Linked DNA regions of Homo sapiens. The protein of the gene in region 2 interacts with the protein of the main gene of each other region in a pairwise test. Each region holds a gene or a part of one and is shown on either strand. Other genes may lie near its edges. The genes, in order: GLIS2, TWIST2 and ATXN10.

Region 1 (7,135 bases), on a different chromosome or scaffold from region 2:
CCTCTGAGCTTTACCAGCCGCCAGAGCTTGGCCCCCGTGAGCCGGGGAGGGGGGAAGTGCCCGCTTTGCAGACGGGAATGGTCTGGCACGCAGGGTTAATAACAGAACAGGACTCGAACCCAGGGCCCCTGGGTCCCTGTCAGACGGGCAGGTAGGAACCTTTCTAGCTTTTCCCAGGCCCCTTCCTGCCTCAGTGTTCCCTTCTGTAAAGTGGCAGGTTCGGGCTGGGCTGCTCCCATAGCCTTCCCCTTCAGACAAGCGGTGAATCTGGTTTTCGGGTGACTCTGCTCTTGGAGGCAGGGCAGAAGTGGTGCCCACCACCCTGGGCCCAAGCACCGGGAATCCCTGAGAGGCACCTCCTGGGCTCAGACCCAGCCTCTACTGCCCAGGTTGGCCAGCGGCACCACCCCACAGCCTAGGGTGCAGGTCCTGGGACTACTGCCGCTCCTTCTGAATGCCTGGTTGCCCGACCAGCTCTGTTCCAGATCTGCCTAGAGGCCTCAGTTTGCATCGTGTGCCAGCCACGTGAGCTGGGCACTGCAGCTCCCACCTCCCTGCAGACATACGATGCTGGGCGGATGGAAGGACAAGCGTGCGGGCTTCCCATGAACCGGAAGCCGAGAGGGGCTGCAGCTACATGCTGGTGGACACACTTGGCCATTCTCCCTGTCACCATGACTGGATCAGGGCTAAGTCCCCCTGCCCTGCCCAGGGCCAGTACCTGAGGGCGGGGAGCCTGGAGAGCCAGGTGTGGGGCTGTCATCCACCAGGCCCAGCTCCCTGTGCAGAGCACGGGGCCGGACCACACCCAGCGTCCTCTCCCGCTTCTCTCTTGCCGCCCGGAGCTTGGTGATACTCAGCTTCAGGTCGAGCGGCTCGTCCAGGGAGTGCATGGTGAGGGGGCCGGAGTTGGAGGTGGCAGCAGGCAGTGGGCTCCCAGCTGGTCTTCACGCAGGAACCTGGGGAAGGACAGGAGCTGTGCTGTGGCACTGAGACCCCAGGCTTCTCCTCGGGCTGTACTCATGACAGTCTAACAGGAGCAGGAGCAGGGGGCAGTGTGAGGTTGTCTCCTGGGTAGGGAGACCCTCCGAGCGACCTGGCCGGCAGCTATCATGGGGGGAGAGCCAACAGCCTCCTCAGAGATTCCGCATCTGCTTCCCATGAGTCTCTTGGGGAAGACAAAGCTCACATTCTTCATTTTGCCATGAAACTGAATTTTATTTGCTGACAGAGTCTCGCTCTGTCACTCAGGCTGGAGTGCAAGTGGCACAATCATAGCTCACTGCAGCCTCGACCTCCTAGGCTCAAGCGATCCTCCCACCTCAGCCTCCCTGGTAGCTGGGACTACAGGCAGGCACCGCTCCTGGCTAATTAAAAAAAAAAATTTTCTTTTTTGTAGAGATCGGGTCTCTCCATGTTGCCCAAACTGATCTCGAACTCCTGGCCTCAAGCGATCCTCCTGCCTTGGCCTCCCAAAACGCTGGGACTACATGCCTGAGCCACCACGCTTGGCGAAACTGCGTCTTTTACAGGCATCGCCTCAGATCGCAGAGCTCAGAAGTGGAAAAACTATCAGATTTGCCAAGACCAGCTCGGTCGGGAGACTAATCCGGCGGCGCTAGAGGAATTAAAGACACATACGCAGAAATATAGCGGTGTGGGGTGGGAAATCAGGGGTCTCACAGCCTTCAGAGCTGAGAGCCTTGAACAGAGATTTACCCACGTATTTATTGACAGCAAGCCAGTCATTAGCATAGTTTCTATAGATTATAGACTAACTGAAAGTATTCCTTATGGGAAATAAAGGGATGGGTCTGGCTAGTTATCTGCAGCAGGAGCGTGTCCTTAAGGCACAGATCACTCATGCCATTGTTTGTGGTTCAAGAACGCCTGTGGCCGGGCGCAGTAACTCACACCTGTAATCCCAGCACTTTGGGAGGCCAAGGCGGGGAGATCACGAGGTCAGGAGATAGAGACCATCCTGGCTAACACGCTGAAACCCCAACTCTATTAAATAACAAAAAAAAAAATTAGCCAGGTGTGGTGGCGGGCGCCTGTAGTCCCAGCTACTCGGGAGGCTGAGGCAGGAGAATGGTGTGAACCCGGGACGCAGAGCTTGCAGTGAGCCGAGATCGCACCACTGCACTCCAGCCTGGGCGACAGAGCAAGACTCCGTCTCAAAAACAAACAAACAAACAAAAAGCCAAACGCTTTTAAGCAGTTTTTCCGCCCTGGGTGGGCCAGGTGTTCCTTGCCCTCATTCTGGTAAACCTACAACCTTCCAGCGTGGGCGTCATGGCCATCATGAACATGTCACAGCGCTGCAGAGATTTTATTTATGGCCAGTTTTGGGGCTAGTTTACAGCCAGATTTTGGGGGGCCTGTTCCCAACAAGATTCAAGGCCTGAAGCCAGATCTCCCGGGAACTGGCTAGCCGTGTCCTAACAGCCTTTTCTGACAGAGCAGGAGCCATGCTCCGGACTCCCGCCCTGTTTGACCCCAAAGATCTAGAACCAGGCCAGGGGGCAAGGAGCATCCTCTGAAATGGCCGGCAGGTAGCCACGCTCACCACCAAGGAACTCGCACCAGGCAAACCGAGAAAGTGGGCACAGCCAGGGGCCCCACCGCCCTCCCTGCAGAGGCCTAGAGGAGAGGCATCGCAAGCCAGGGAGCCCCAGGGCGCTGGGTCGCCACCAGGGGGCAGCTGGGGATTGTGGCCTGGCCTGGCCAGCTGGGGCAGGGTTGGTGGAGTTGACCAGCTGTATCTGGCGGTTAATATATAAATATGTAGAAATTATTTTTTACTGGAGATGGTATTCTTTTAGTATCACTTCCCATGCTGTAATTTTCATCATTTTTCTTAGAATTTCTCACTGGTTTAATTTTCATTTTCTTTTTGGAAATGGAGTCTCTCAGTCACCCAGGCTGGAGTGCAGTGGTGTGATCTGGGCTCACTGCAACCTCTGCCTCCCGAGTTCAAGCGATTGTCCTGCCTCAGCCTCCCAAGTAGCTGGGATTACAGGTGTACACCATCACACCCAGCTAATTTTTCTATTTTTAGTAGCGACAGCGTTTCACCATGTTGGCCAGGCTGGTCTCAAACTCCTGACCTCAGGTGATCTGCCCACCTCGGCCTCCCAAAGTGCTGTGATTACAGGTGTGAGCCACCTCGCCCCACCTGGTGTAATTTTCCTCACATGCAAATGATCTAACAGTATCCACCGACCCAAGAACAAGGTCAACACTTCATTCTAAACCCAAACTTCACATTCAGAGCAGCAATCTTTTCCTACGCGGTTAAACACGACATTTCCTTGCGTTTGTTCATTGGGATTATTACAACTTGAAAATCTAACTGCCGCACAATCACGCTGTGAGATCCCGTCTTTCGCGGTATTGGGGTCTTTACTCAATACCAAAGGGCGGCCATGGTGGACATAACTACTACATGGTGAAATACTTTGGATATGCCCCCGTGTGTTTCCCTGGGGGCTAGCATAGCCTGTGAGTGGGGAGAGATGCTGTCCACAGGGCAGGACAGGAAGGCAGCTCCCACGTCCTCCCCTTCTGCCCTGACTCTCCAAGCAAGTAGGGCATAAAATGGTCCCCCCTTCACTGGAGATCCTCTGCTTCTAGGGACACATCCCCAGACCCCACCCCAACATGGCTGACACGGGGGTCTCAGCACAGGGGGGCTGCCCACCTCTCCCAAGGCTGCATCATCAGAGCCAGGGCAGCTGCACTAGGCCGTGGGACCTAGGTCTGCGATTCGCCCCTGTTGGAGCTGTCAGATTGTTTGAATTTGCCTCCCAGGCCATGCATGGGCCAGGGGCTCCCAGAGATGCGGTGGGGTAGGGACCACACCCCCGCTAGCAGGTGGGTGGGTGACAGTGATGGATGGACCAGGGTCCCCTCCACTGTTTCTCTGGCTGGACAGGGAGTTGCCCTCTGCCTGAACCCCTGCCAGTTCCATCTGTCTATCTGTGTGTCTATCGTCCTGCTACCTGTTTATTTTTAGACACAGGCGCAATCCAGCCTCCCCGAAGCTCCTCTGTGCTGGAAGCCTGGACGGGGAGGAAGGAAGTAAATATTTATGCTGATGAAGAATTCAGGAGCCAGGAAGGGCTGGTGGCCTGGTCCCTTGGCTGGCCTGGGGCCACAGGCCTCCCCACAGCCTCTGTCCTCACCCCCACCCCCACCCTTCCGGAGAAGGGGACCACAAGGGCAGGATGGTTTGGGAACTGGGAATTCCAGCTGACGGGGACACTCACTGGCAGCGCTGCCCAAGCAACATCCTTTGGCACCTGCCCCACTGCCTTCCCAGGACAGATGGGGACTCGGGGAGCCAGGGGCCCTGAGTCACCTTGTTCTTAGGGCCTGCAGGGGACACTTCCCCAGGAGGAGCCTGTCTCCCCAGGTGGGGCCAGCCACACGGCCCAAAGCCAGAGGGAGGACTCCAATGCACCCCCTTCATCAGCAGGTCCAGTCCCCAGGGGCACCCCCACACACTTCCTGCCACTGGGTCCTGCCAGGGAGGCAGGGGTTCATTCCAATGCAGGCCAGAGCCCGGCACACGGCCTGCGTCCCTGCCCCCGGGAAAGGAAGGAGCTGCCCCCAGCCCTACACCTCCCAGCATCCCTGTTCCAGGCCCTCCCCACCCAGAGTTTTTCCTCCAATGGAGGCCCCACCCCAGAGGGGAGACGGTCAGTGACCCTGCTTCAGTTCTGACCTTGGCCAGGCTTAAAGCCTCCCCTTCCACCCCCGCCCCGACCGGCAGCAGCCAGTTCTGGGCTCTGCTCTGTGCTTTTGTTCCCGGCTGGGTGAAGGGGGCAGGCGAGAGCTAGGTTCCTGCTCTCCTGAAAGCCTCGGAGGCCCAGAGCGGGGAGCAGCGGGCCTGCAACCAGGGAACCCTGAGTGAGTGCCCATGAGCGGGTGGCCGTGGCTCTCCCCAGCGTAAGGCCGACAGCCTGGCTCTGGACAAGCTCAGCCAGAGGCCTGGGTGCTAATTACTGCGGGGTCCCGAGGGCAGGAGCCGGCTCTCGGTCAGGTGGGGGCACCCCGTGGATGCTCCCCGGGCGCAGCGCAAGGCCCGCCGGCCCCACGCCCCTCTGCGCCTCCTGGTGGAGCCTTCCGTTCCTCAGTTTCCCCCCGGTGGGACAGCGCAGCGTGGAGGGTGCACAGAGCCCAGGGCCGCGTCTCTCGAGCACTCAGCCTGGGATGCGCCCAGGGCAGCGCCCCCACACGCAAGGGCCCAGGGGTTGGGGCGAGGGCTGGGGTTGTCGGTGGGGGGTGGGGGTGGCCGCGGAACCGGCCGCTGCGCGGCTCCTCCAGCTGCAAAAGGAACTAATTAGAGCGGGGCGAGCGGGAGGAAGCGGCTGCGGCGAGGGAGGAAGCGCGCGGGGGCGGCCGCGGGGACCACCGGGACGGCGGGGGCTTCGGGGGACCGGGCCCTGCCCTTCCCACCCACCGCAGGGCGGGGGTCACCCGGAGGGTGGGCTGGGCGGGCCCCCCGCCACCCTGGCCGAGACAATGGCTGCTATTGTGTGCCCGACCGCAGCCCGAGCAGACGGCCCCCAGCTGCAGCGCTGGCGGAGCCACCCGGCCCCCCGCCCGCAGTCCCCGGCCAGGCCAGGTAGCCAAGGATCCCGCCCTGGCAGGCGGGGCCGGCCACTGTCCCCACCCTCCCTACTGGAAGGCACGGGGCGACCCAGCACACTCAGGGAAACTAAGGCCCGGAAAAGACAGTCTCTTCCAGGGCCCCTTGGCCTGGGGTGGGTCATACACCAGAGGGGGTAAAGGACCATTAGGTACTGACCACGTGTCAGGCCCATCTGTCCATGGATTCAATGACCCCTCTACAACCCTGCCTGGCAGTAGCTGCTGTCATTTTCCCGATCTCACAGATGGGGAAACTGAGGCTTGAGATCACTAGGCTAATAGGGAGCTGGTTGGAGTCCTGCTCTGAATAAAGCTCCTTCTAGGCCAGGCGCGGTGGCTGACGCCTGTAAGCCCAGCACATTGGGAGGCCGAGGCAGGAGAATCCCTTGAGTGCAGGAGTTCTACACCAGCCTGGGCAACATGGAAAAATCCCGTTTGAAGTAAAAAAATCAGCCGGTGGCCGGGCACGGTGGCTCATGCCTGTAATCCCAGCACTTTGGGAGGCCGAGGGCGGACCACCTGAGGTCAGGAGTTCCAGACCAGCCTGGCCAACATGGCGAAACGCTCTCTCTACTAAAAATACGAAAATTAGCCGGGCGTGGTGGCAGGTGTCTGTAATTCCAGCTACCCGGGAGGCTGAGGCAGGAGAATCGCTTGAACCAGGGAGGCAGAAGTTGCAGTGAGCTGAGATCGCGCCACTGCACTCCAGCCTGGGCGACGGAGTGAGACTCCATCTCGGAAAAAAAAAAAAAAAAAAAAATAGCTGGGCGTGGAAGCAGGGACCTGTGGTCCCAGCTACTCGGGAGGCTGAGGTGGGAGGATCGCCTGAGCCTGGGGAGTTTGAGGCTGCAGTAAGCCGAGATCACACCACTGCACTCCGGCCTGTCTCAAAAAACAACAAAAAAAGCTCCTCCTTTCCTGCTTGGGGGAGGGTGGCTGGCAGGCCCTAAGCCTGTGGAGGTGCAGGGTGCACTGGGGGGCTGTGTGCACCCACCCTGAGAACCACTTGGTCTCTTTGCAGAAGGAAGCGGGTCCTCTGTAAGATGGGGCTGCATCCCTGCCCCGCTCCCAGCAGCATGGGGTCAGGTGAGTGACCAGCGTGGCAGTGTTGTCAAGGGCAATGTGAGGAACACCCCTTGCCTTGGAGTGTCCTGCGAGTGCGCTTTTGGTCAGCAGTGGCCATTTAGCTGAGAACTTGGAGACAAGGCCTCAAGATGCATCTCTCAGAAGTCTATGTGGTCACCTTTGTTTTTTTTGTTTGTTTCTTTTTTGAGATGGAGTCTCACTCTGTCACCCAGGCTGGAGTGCAGTGGCACGATCTCAGCTCACTGCAAGCTCCGCCTCCCAGGTTCACAGCATTCTCCTGCCTCAGCCTCCTGAGTTGCTGGGACTACAGGCGCCCACCACCACACCCGGCTAATTTTTTTGTGTGTATTTTTTTAGTAGAGATAGGGTTTCACCGTGTTAGCCAGGATGG
Region 2 (4,471 bases):
CGCCTGCACCAGACCCAGGCTGACTCTCCTTGATGGCAGATCATGTTCCTTCTGGGATTTCTGGGCAGGATGCCAACCTAACCTGCACACCCAGGTGCTCCATTCTTAGCCAGCTGCCTGGTGAGCTCATGGTCAACATGGCACGGATGCATGTGGAGCAGACGGTGACTCGTTCAGAGAAGCAGGGAGGTGGTGGCACAAATGAATGCCATGCTTGGGAGAGCAGGGAATACCACCCAGGGTGAGCAGCAGGGAAGGCTGGCCCGGACTTTGGACAGCAGGGGTGGCTCACAGAATGGGCACGCTTCTGTATCAAGAGCGGGGCGTGGGTGTGACAGCAATGGTCTCTTGTGCTGAGGCTGCTGGGGAGCAGCAGAGGACTAGGCACTGGGAAAGGGCTGAGGCCCCCTCTGCTCTCCCAGGCCTCGGTCTGTTCACACTGGCAACCATGTTAGAGTTGGTAGTTTCTAGAAATTTCTACAAACATGCACAGCATAAAATGTCTCACATCCTCTCTCGTGCCTTTTAAAGTGAAGTAATAGTGATTCTTGCAACCTGTTCTGACTCTCTCAGGCAGAGCCCTGAGCTGCGAAGTAGAGATGAGAACAGAGATGGGGAGACCATGGCTGCGCGGACGTCTTTATTTTTCCTGGGTGGGGAGCAGGATACACAGCCACACTGCAGTCACTTAGCTTGTAAAAATATCTCAATAAATAAAACAAACAAGCAACATATACACTGAACAGAGAATATTTTTTTTTAAATGGCTAGCCAAGCAATCACGGAGAAAGGAAAAGAATAGCGGCGTGAAAGTAAGAATTCCAGGCTGACTTGAAACAATCATGCAGAGGCTCGGGGGAGGGGAAGGAACTCGGGGGTCCTCTTCTGAGAGCCTTGGTCCAGTTTCAACAGAATTGTACAAGAATGCATTTCTGTTTTATTAAAAAAATAGACATTAAAAAAGGCACTTAGAGGGAAATACAAATTCAAAATCCAAATCCTCATAAATGTGTTCCTGAATCTAGACATTTTCAGAAAGAATAAACCTCCCCCCAAACATAAGACCCAGAAGAAAAATCCAAACAGAAACAAGATGACCATGACAATGTCACCAGCAAGAGGGCTGGGAGTGCCCTTCCTATGTGGGGACCGTCCTGGGGGAGGACGGGAGCCCGGGTCTTCTGTCCGATGTCACTGCTGTCCCTTCTCTCGACGCTGGTGGAGGGCAGAGGTGGGGGCCTCCTGAGGTTGTTCAGGTTTCAGAAGTTACAGACTCGAATGCATCCCAATTCCACTTGCGCCGCCGACGCGACGGACAGCCTGGAAGATACGGAAGGGGGACCGTGAGCTACGGCCGCCTCGCTCGGCCTCCTGCAGGATCGTCCTGAGACTGTCCCAAGGCTGGGTGGGACGGGACACGGGGCAGGCCCTGAGAGAGCTGGCTCTGTTCTACTCATGTTCCTCCCAAAAGACACTGGGCAGGTGACTGCTACGGGGCCAGCCCAGGCTTCCGCAACCCCTGCCCCCTGGGCCAGGCCAAGCCCTTTCCCTCCCCCGAGTGCCCTTTCCTGCCCCCGAGTGCCCTTTCTCACACTCACCACCCCGGGGCCTCTCCCTGGCCCGTGCTCAGCGCAGCCATGAATGCGGTCTGGCTGTGGGTGAGCCCCTCAGAACAGGCTGCCTGGGGACAAGAGAGGCTCGGCACGTTGGCCCCGTGCAGGCCCGAGGGAGCTGTGGGGTTTCGGGCAGCAGAGGGCTGGGTTCCAGCGAGGAGGACGCAGAGAAATGGGTCAGCCGCTGGCGGGAGCTGTCAACGGCGGATTCTTGCTTTAAAATGCGTGCTTTCAAAACAATTGCAGACACACGGGAAGTTGCAAAGACAACACAGAGATGTCCCATGTGCCTTTCACCCAGTTTCCACACATACCACACCCACGAACACACCCCACCCCACATACACACACACACCAAACATACCACACACTACACACACCCCACACTACACACCACATACACATACCACACCCACGAACACACCCCACCCCACATACACACACACCAAACATACCACACACTACACACACCCCACACTACATACACACCACATACACATACCACAACCACGAATACACCACACCTCCACATACACACACACACCACACAAACATACTACACACTACACACACCCCGCACTGTACATACACACCACATACAAATACCACACACACAAACACACCACACTGCCACATACACAAACACACTACATACACCACCACACACCACACAAACACACCACACCCTCCCACACACAAACACATCACACACACCACACACCACACAAACATACCGCACACTACACACGCATCCCACTGTCCATACACACCTCATACACAAACACATACCACACACAAACACACCACATCCCCACATACCCACACACACACTGCACAGCACAAACACACTGCATACTACACACACCCCACACACTGCACAAACATACCACATACATATCCACACAGACAACATACCATATGGTATATTATATACCACATTATATGCCACACATACAGTGGTGTCGTCACGTCACACCCAGGCATCTGGCACCAGTATGGACCAAGAGCTTATTCACATGTCACTCGTGTGGGTGTGTGTGGTGTGGGGTATGTATGTGTGGTATATAGTGTGTAGTGTACATGGTATGTTGTATGTGTGTGCATGTGTGTGTATGTGGTATGTGTGGTGTGTGCAGTGTGTGGTATGTTTGTGTGGTGTGTGGTGCATGTGGTTTGTGTTTGTGTGTATGTGGGGTGTGGTGTGTTTGTGTGTGTGGTATGTGTGTGTATGTGGTGTCTATGTACAGTGTGAAGTGTGTGTGTAGTGTGTGGTATGTATGGTGCATGGTGTATGTGGTGTGTGTTTGGGGGATTGTATTTTGTATGGGGGGTATATGTGTACAGTGTGGCGTGTGTATGTGTGTGTGGTGTGGGGTATGTATATGTGGTATGTAGTGGGTAGTGTGTATGGTATGGTATCTATGTGTATGTGTATGTGGTATGTCTGTGTGTGTGGTATGTTTGTATGGTGTGTGGTGTATGTGGCGTGACTTTGTGTGTGTATGTGGGGGTGTGGTGTGTTTGTGTGGTATGTGTTTGTGTATGTGGTGCGTATGTACAATGTGGGGTGTGTGTGTAGTGTGTGGTATGTTTGTGTGCCATGTGATGTGTGTTTGTGTGTGGTGTAGGTGGTGTGTGTTTGTAAGTGGGGGTGTAGTGTGTTTGTGTGGTGTGTGTGTATGTGGTGTGTATGTACAGTGTGGGGGTGTGTGTGTAGTGTGTGGTATATTTGTGTGGCGCGTGGTGTGTGTTTATGTGTGTAAGTGGGTATGTGGAGTGTTTGTGTGTTTTTGTGTGTGTGTTGTGTGCGTTTATGTGTGTGTTTGTGTGTGTATTGTGTGCATTTGTGTGTGTGTGTGAGTGGTGTATGTGTACTTCCTGCAGTTTCATCATGCGTGTTGTTTCTTGCACCCCCCACTATGATCAAGACACACAATTCTTCCAGCCCCACAAGGTCCCCTCATGCCACACAAGTGACTTCTAAGCGCACTTGTGGGCCAATCAAACTGTGGGTGTGCCAGGCTTGGTGCAGCTCTGGGGCTGCAACCAGCTGTCCCGGGAGCGCCTTGGGGAAAGAACCCGCTCAGGCGCTACCCAGAGCCTGGTTCCCACCTGCAGGGGGAGGAGACACAGGCAGGAGGAAAGTCCAGGTCCTCCAGGAAGCCGGGGTGGGGACCCCAATCCCGCGCCTCCCTCTGTGCCTGCCAAGCTCAAAGAGAAGGTGCTGAGAGGTGGCCGGGGCCAGCGTCTGAGACCCAGGGTGTACAGGGATGTGGTGTCATAAGCCCAAGGTCTTGGGCCACCTCAGTGGGGCCCACAGGGCAGGGGACACGCCACTGGCATCAGCACCTGGTCGGGAGTGTGGCGAACACAGGTGGGCCCCGCGCCGCGCCTCAGGGCCGCTTCTGCCACACACCCAGGCCAGCCTGCAGCAGCCCCCAGGCTGTGTTGCTGTCCTGCCAGGAGACCTGAGCTCTAGCAGGGATCGCTGAAGACTGGCCCTGCGACCTGGGACCTTTACTGCTCACCACAGGGCCTGGCCGTGTAAGTGCTCACTCCCACACCTCTTGCACAAACATGAGAACAGCCAGTTGACCTGCAGAGCTCGCGGGAGGTGAGTGTTCAGCGAGAATTATTGGAGAACTCCCCTGAGCCAAGGGGCAAACCAGCGCAACGAGACCCTCCTCCCGCAGAGCGGCTGAGCGTGGTGGGAGGGGTGGGTGTCAGCCCAGAGGCAGGCATGGGCTCCCCAAGGCGGCCGCCAGGAGAGGGGTCACCGTGAGGATTCTGCCACAGGGAAGGAGGTCCAGGGAGGCCCCAGGCACTGGGGGGAGGATGTGGAAGCTGGAGGGACGGGT
Region 3 (3,109 bases), on a different chromosome or scaffold from region 2:
CATCTCCAGATTACTTGTAACACCTAATAAAATGTAAATGCTATGGAAATAGTTGTTACCTTGTATTTTAAAATTTGTATTATTTTTTGTTGTTGTACTACTATTTTATTTTTCCTGAGTATTTTCAATCCCCAGTTGGTTCAATCTGTGGATACAGAGAGCCGACTGTTTTAAGATTGCAAAAATAAGTATTTTTGAAATCTTCACATCCATTGTTAAGGTATTAAAAAATAATCACTCTGCAAATACTTGGACTCAGTATCAAGCTGAGAAGCCTTCCCCTCTATCTTTTAAAGTGAAGCCAGCTAAAAGCTTTGTCAGCTCGCTCTTGAAAGCAATAATATGGTCACAAAACTTGCTGTGACCATTCTGTCTCTTTACAAATTTTGTAAGGCTGGCCTGCTTTTTTCTTCCTTCTAAATGACTGATTGAGGTGATGATTAATCCTCTATAGCATGTAAAACAAGGTTCTCAGGAGCTCCGAGTCCTCCACGGTAGAGGACAGGGAAGCTGTTGTGCTCAAGAATTAATCCATCCGAGGGAATCAAAGGCAGCCACAATGCAGTCATCAGCATGTTTTCACTATGCAAGCCCCACACTTCCTACTTAGAAAACACATAACCATTACCCCATTCTGTATTCTCACAAGGCTCCCTTTTATTTATTTGTGTTTGTTATTATATAGCTCATACCGACAAGTTTGTGCGATTCCACTGGTGTGCACACATCCATTGAGACAGGAAAAAAAGAAGTGTCTATTGCAAACTTGTTAAAAGGGAAAAGGGACTCCCACTGTTTTCTCCCTTTGGCCAGGCTTCTATTTAGAGGACAGAGCTTTAACTCTTTATGTCCCAGGAGAGAATGACTCCTTTGTGTAATTTTAAATTCTGCAATGGCTTCTTTACTGATGGAAAGTCATAAATGAGAGAAAAAATGTTATTCATAGATTGCTGCAATCCTAGAAGCTGATGTGTCTTCAGAGTTACACAGAGTACATTAGACAGCACATGGGAAAACTTTTACTTCATTCTCAACATGCTTAAGCTATTTTTACAAATCAGTTAAACTATGTCTACACAAAGCTTAGAAGCACTTTATTTGGGAGCAATCAGTATTTTTGTCAAAACTTTTGGACAGGTCTTTATTTTTGTTTTGGAAGGTTCAACACGAATTGTGCAAAATCTCTGGATATATTAGTTTAGCGATATGGTTGTTGAAGAAAATAATATGTTTTAAGCATTCACAACGTGACCTCCCCCTAGAGCTTTTGTTGATGATATGAATGATCTGGATTCAGTGAGTTCAGTGGTCATTTAATCCAGTCCTACCTCTCATACAGCAGACAGATAGATAGATGAACAGACAGACAGATAACTAGATGTCAAATAAACTCCTGCTCCCTAAAAGTACTTTTGCAATTTCAGTGAAGACATGGCTAAAACTGAGTGGCACCTTTATGAGACTGGTGCTTTTTAAATCAAAGAAGATAGAAATGTACCTTTAATCTACGGCACTGCACCAGAGCAGAACATAAGCTATTCCTTCCCCCATGACAGAGGCATGAAGCTGGGGAGGACACAGGCATTCACCTTGACACAGAATGGGTCCTGGGATGTCTACTTCTGGGATGAACTGGAACATGAAGAGTTAAGTGCCCACATGTTCTCTCACCAACCTCACTCCCTGCCACATTCCAAAGGGATAGGGCTCAGTGACAAGACAGCCCAGTACCCAAAATGAAGAGGGAGGGTTCTCGAATTAATTAACTGGAAATGAGTCTTGTCAATGTTTTGGAAAGGCAGAGGGGTGAAAAGAGATTGCTAGAATTAATCACAGTGAGAAACTACTTCAACCGCCTGCCAGAGTTCAGAAAACCCAATGAGAAGAGGAATATAAAGAATGATGCTGACTTGCCATCTGAAGGGACAAACACAGTCAAGCCAACATCCAAGTTTTGTCAAATAAGGGTTGTGCCCTCCAAGAGACTGGTTTATTATCTGCTGTCACAGTAAGTACAATATATTCTTTAAATGCACGTTCTATCCAGGGGGACAAAGGCAAACCACACAGTTACATTAATGCAAAGAAACAAGAGAACACTCAGTTACTTTCACTTTTAGCTTATACACGTTAAACTCTACTACCTAAAAGATTTGTATGTTCCCAAATTTGTACTTATAAATCTTCAAACACTTGCAATTTCACATACGGTAGAAGATGAAAAATCCATGAAACAGATTCCAAAAATTCAGGTATTTGGATGTAGTTCATTCACTAAAGAAGAAGAAAGAAACAAAATTGCAGATGTAGCAAATCTGTTCACAAGATTCATCAGACAAAAGGGGAAAAAACCCAGAACTTTGGTCAGTGGTGACAAATAACTTAGAGAAACCTAAAACAATTCATGCAATATTATTCAAGGAGTTCTGTTTTTTAAACTATAGTGAACATTAACTATCTTTTAAAGAAAATCTAATTCCTATGAGTAACTTACTTTTAGACCATGTATAACTTTTGATATGCCTTTTGTATTTCTCACCCAGAATGAGTTTGAAATTGTCCCTCTTTTAAGAAAATGGCAGCATAAAGCCGGAACAAAAAAACCGTTTGCAGCTATCTTTAGGGCTTTCCTCGGTAAACCACTATAGAGGGCACAATTCTCCCATCCATATTCTTACAAAGAGCCTCGTGCTTGAAGCAATGGGGAAGTGGAAACAGCTTTCTACAAACCAAAGGGAAGGACAGTTCCCTCGAGGGTACTTACTGGCTTAGGGGTGTCTCTAGTAGATTTCAGGATCAGCTTTTCGCCTTTCTTTTCAACTTCAAAACCCACTTTTTTAAGTAGGGATGCATCTGCCAGCCCCTGTTCCTCCATCTTTGCAATCAAATCTTGGTTTTGGCTGTTGTCTTCGGTAAGGTTTCGGATGGCATATATCACCCACTGGGTCAGAACTGGAGCCAGAGTGAAGGAATGTGACAACGTACTTTCCTGTTTGATAACTTCACATAAGAATTATCAGAAAAGGAGTAGAGGAGCACAGAAACACGGAACATCCAGTATCAATCCACAAGTTTTCTTGAGGATGCATTCTCTGAATATGCATCTCAA

The links.
Region 1: the proteins of TWIST2 (region 2) and GLIS2 interact in binary tests that used the Homo sapiens proteins (3 or more experiments, as listed by UniProt).
Region 3: the proteins of TWIST2 (region 2) and ATXN10 interact in binary tests that used the Homo sapiens proteins (3 or more experiments, as listed by UniProt).

The regions. Positions count from the first base shown.
Region 1 is NC_000016.10:4,326,039-4,333,173, reverse strand, and holds part of GLIS2 (zinc finger protein GLIS2), read right to left. Parts: intron 6,745-7,135; exon of another isoform or gene 6,680-6,744; intron 4,915-6,679; exon of another isoform or gene 4,834-4,914; intron 4,065-4,833; exon of another isoform or gene 4,005-4,064; intron 960-4,004; 5' UTR 894-959; coding exon 722-893; intron 1-721. UniProt on the Homo sapiens protein: Can act either as a transcriptional repressor or as a transcriptional activator, depending on the cell context. Acts as a repressor of the Hedgehog signaling pathway. Represses the Hedgehog-dependent expression of Wnt4.
Region 2 is NC_000002.12:238,906,691-238,911,161, reverse strand, and holds the end of TWIST2 (twist-related protein 2), read right to left. Parts: intron 1,321-4,471; 3' UTR 628-1,320; downstream 1-627. UniProt on the Homo sapiens protein: Binds to the E-box consensus sequence 5'-CANNTG-3' as a heterodimer and inhibits transcriptional activation by MYOD1, MYOG, MEF2A and MEF2C. Also represses expression of pro-inflammatory cytokines such as TNFA and IL1B.
Region 3 is NC_000022.11:45,842,834-45,845,942, reverse strand, and holds the end of ATXN10 (ataxin-10), read right to left. Parts: intron 2,953-3,109; coding exon 2,765-2,952; intron 2,275-2,764; coding exon 2,272-2,274; 3' UTR 636-2,271; downstream 1-635. UniProt on the Homo sapiens protein: May play a role in the regulation of cytokinesis. May play a role in signaling by stimulating protein glycosylation. Induces neuritogenesis by activating the Ras-MAP kinase pathway and is necessary for the survival of cerebellar neurons.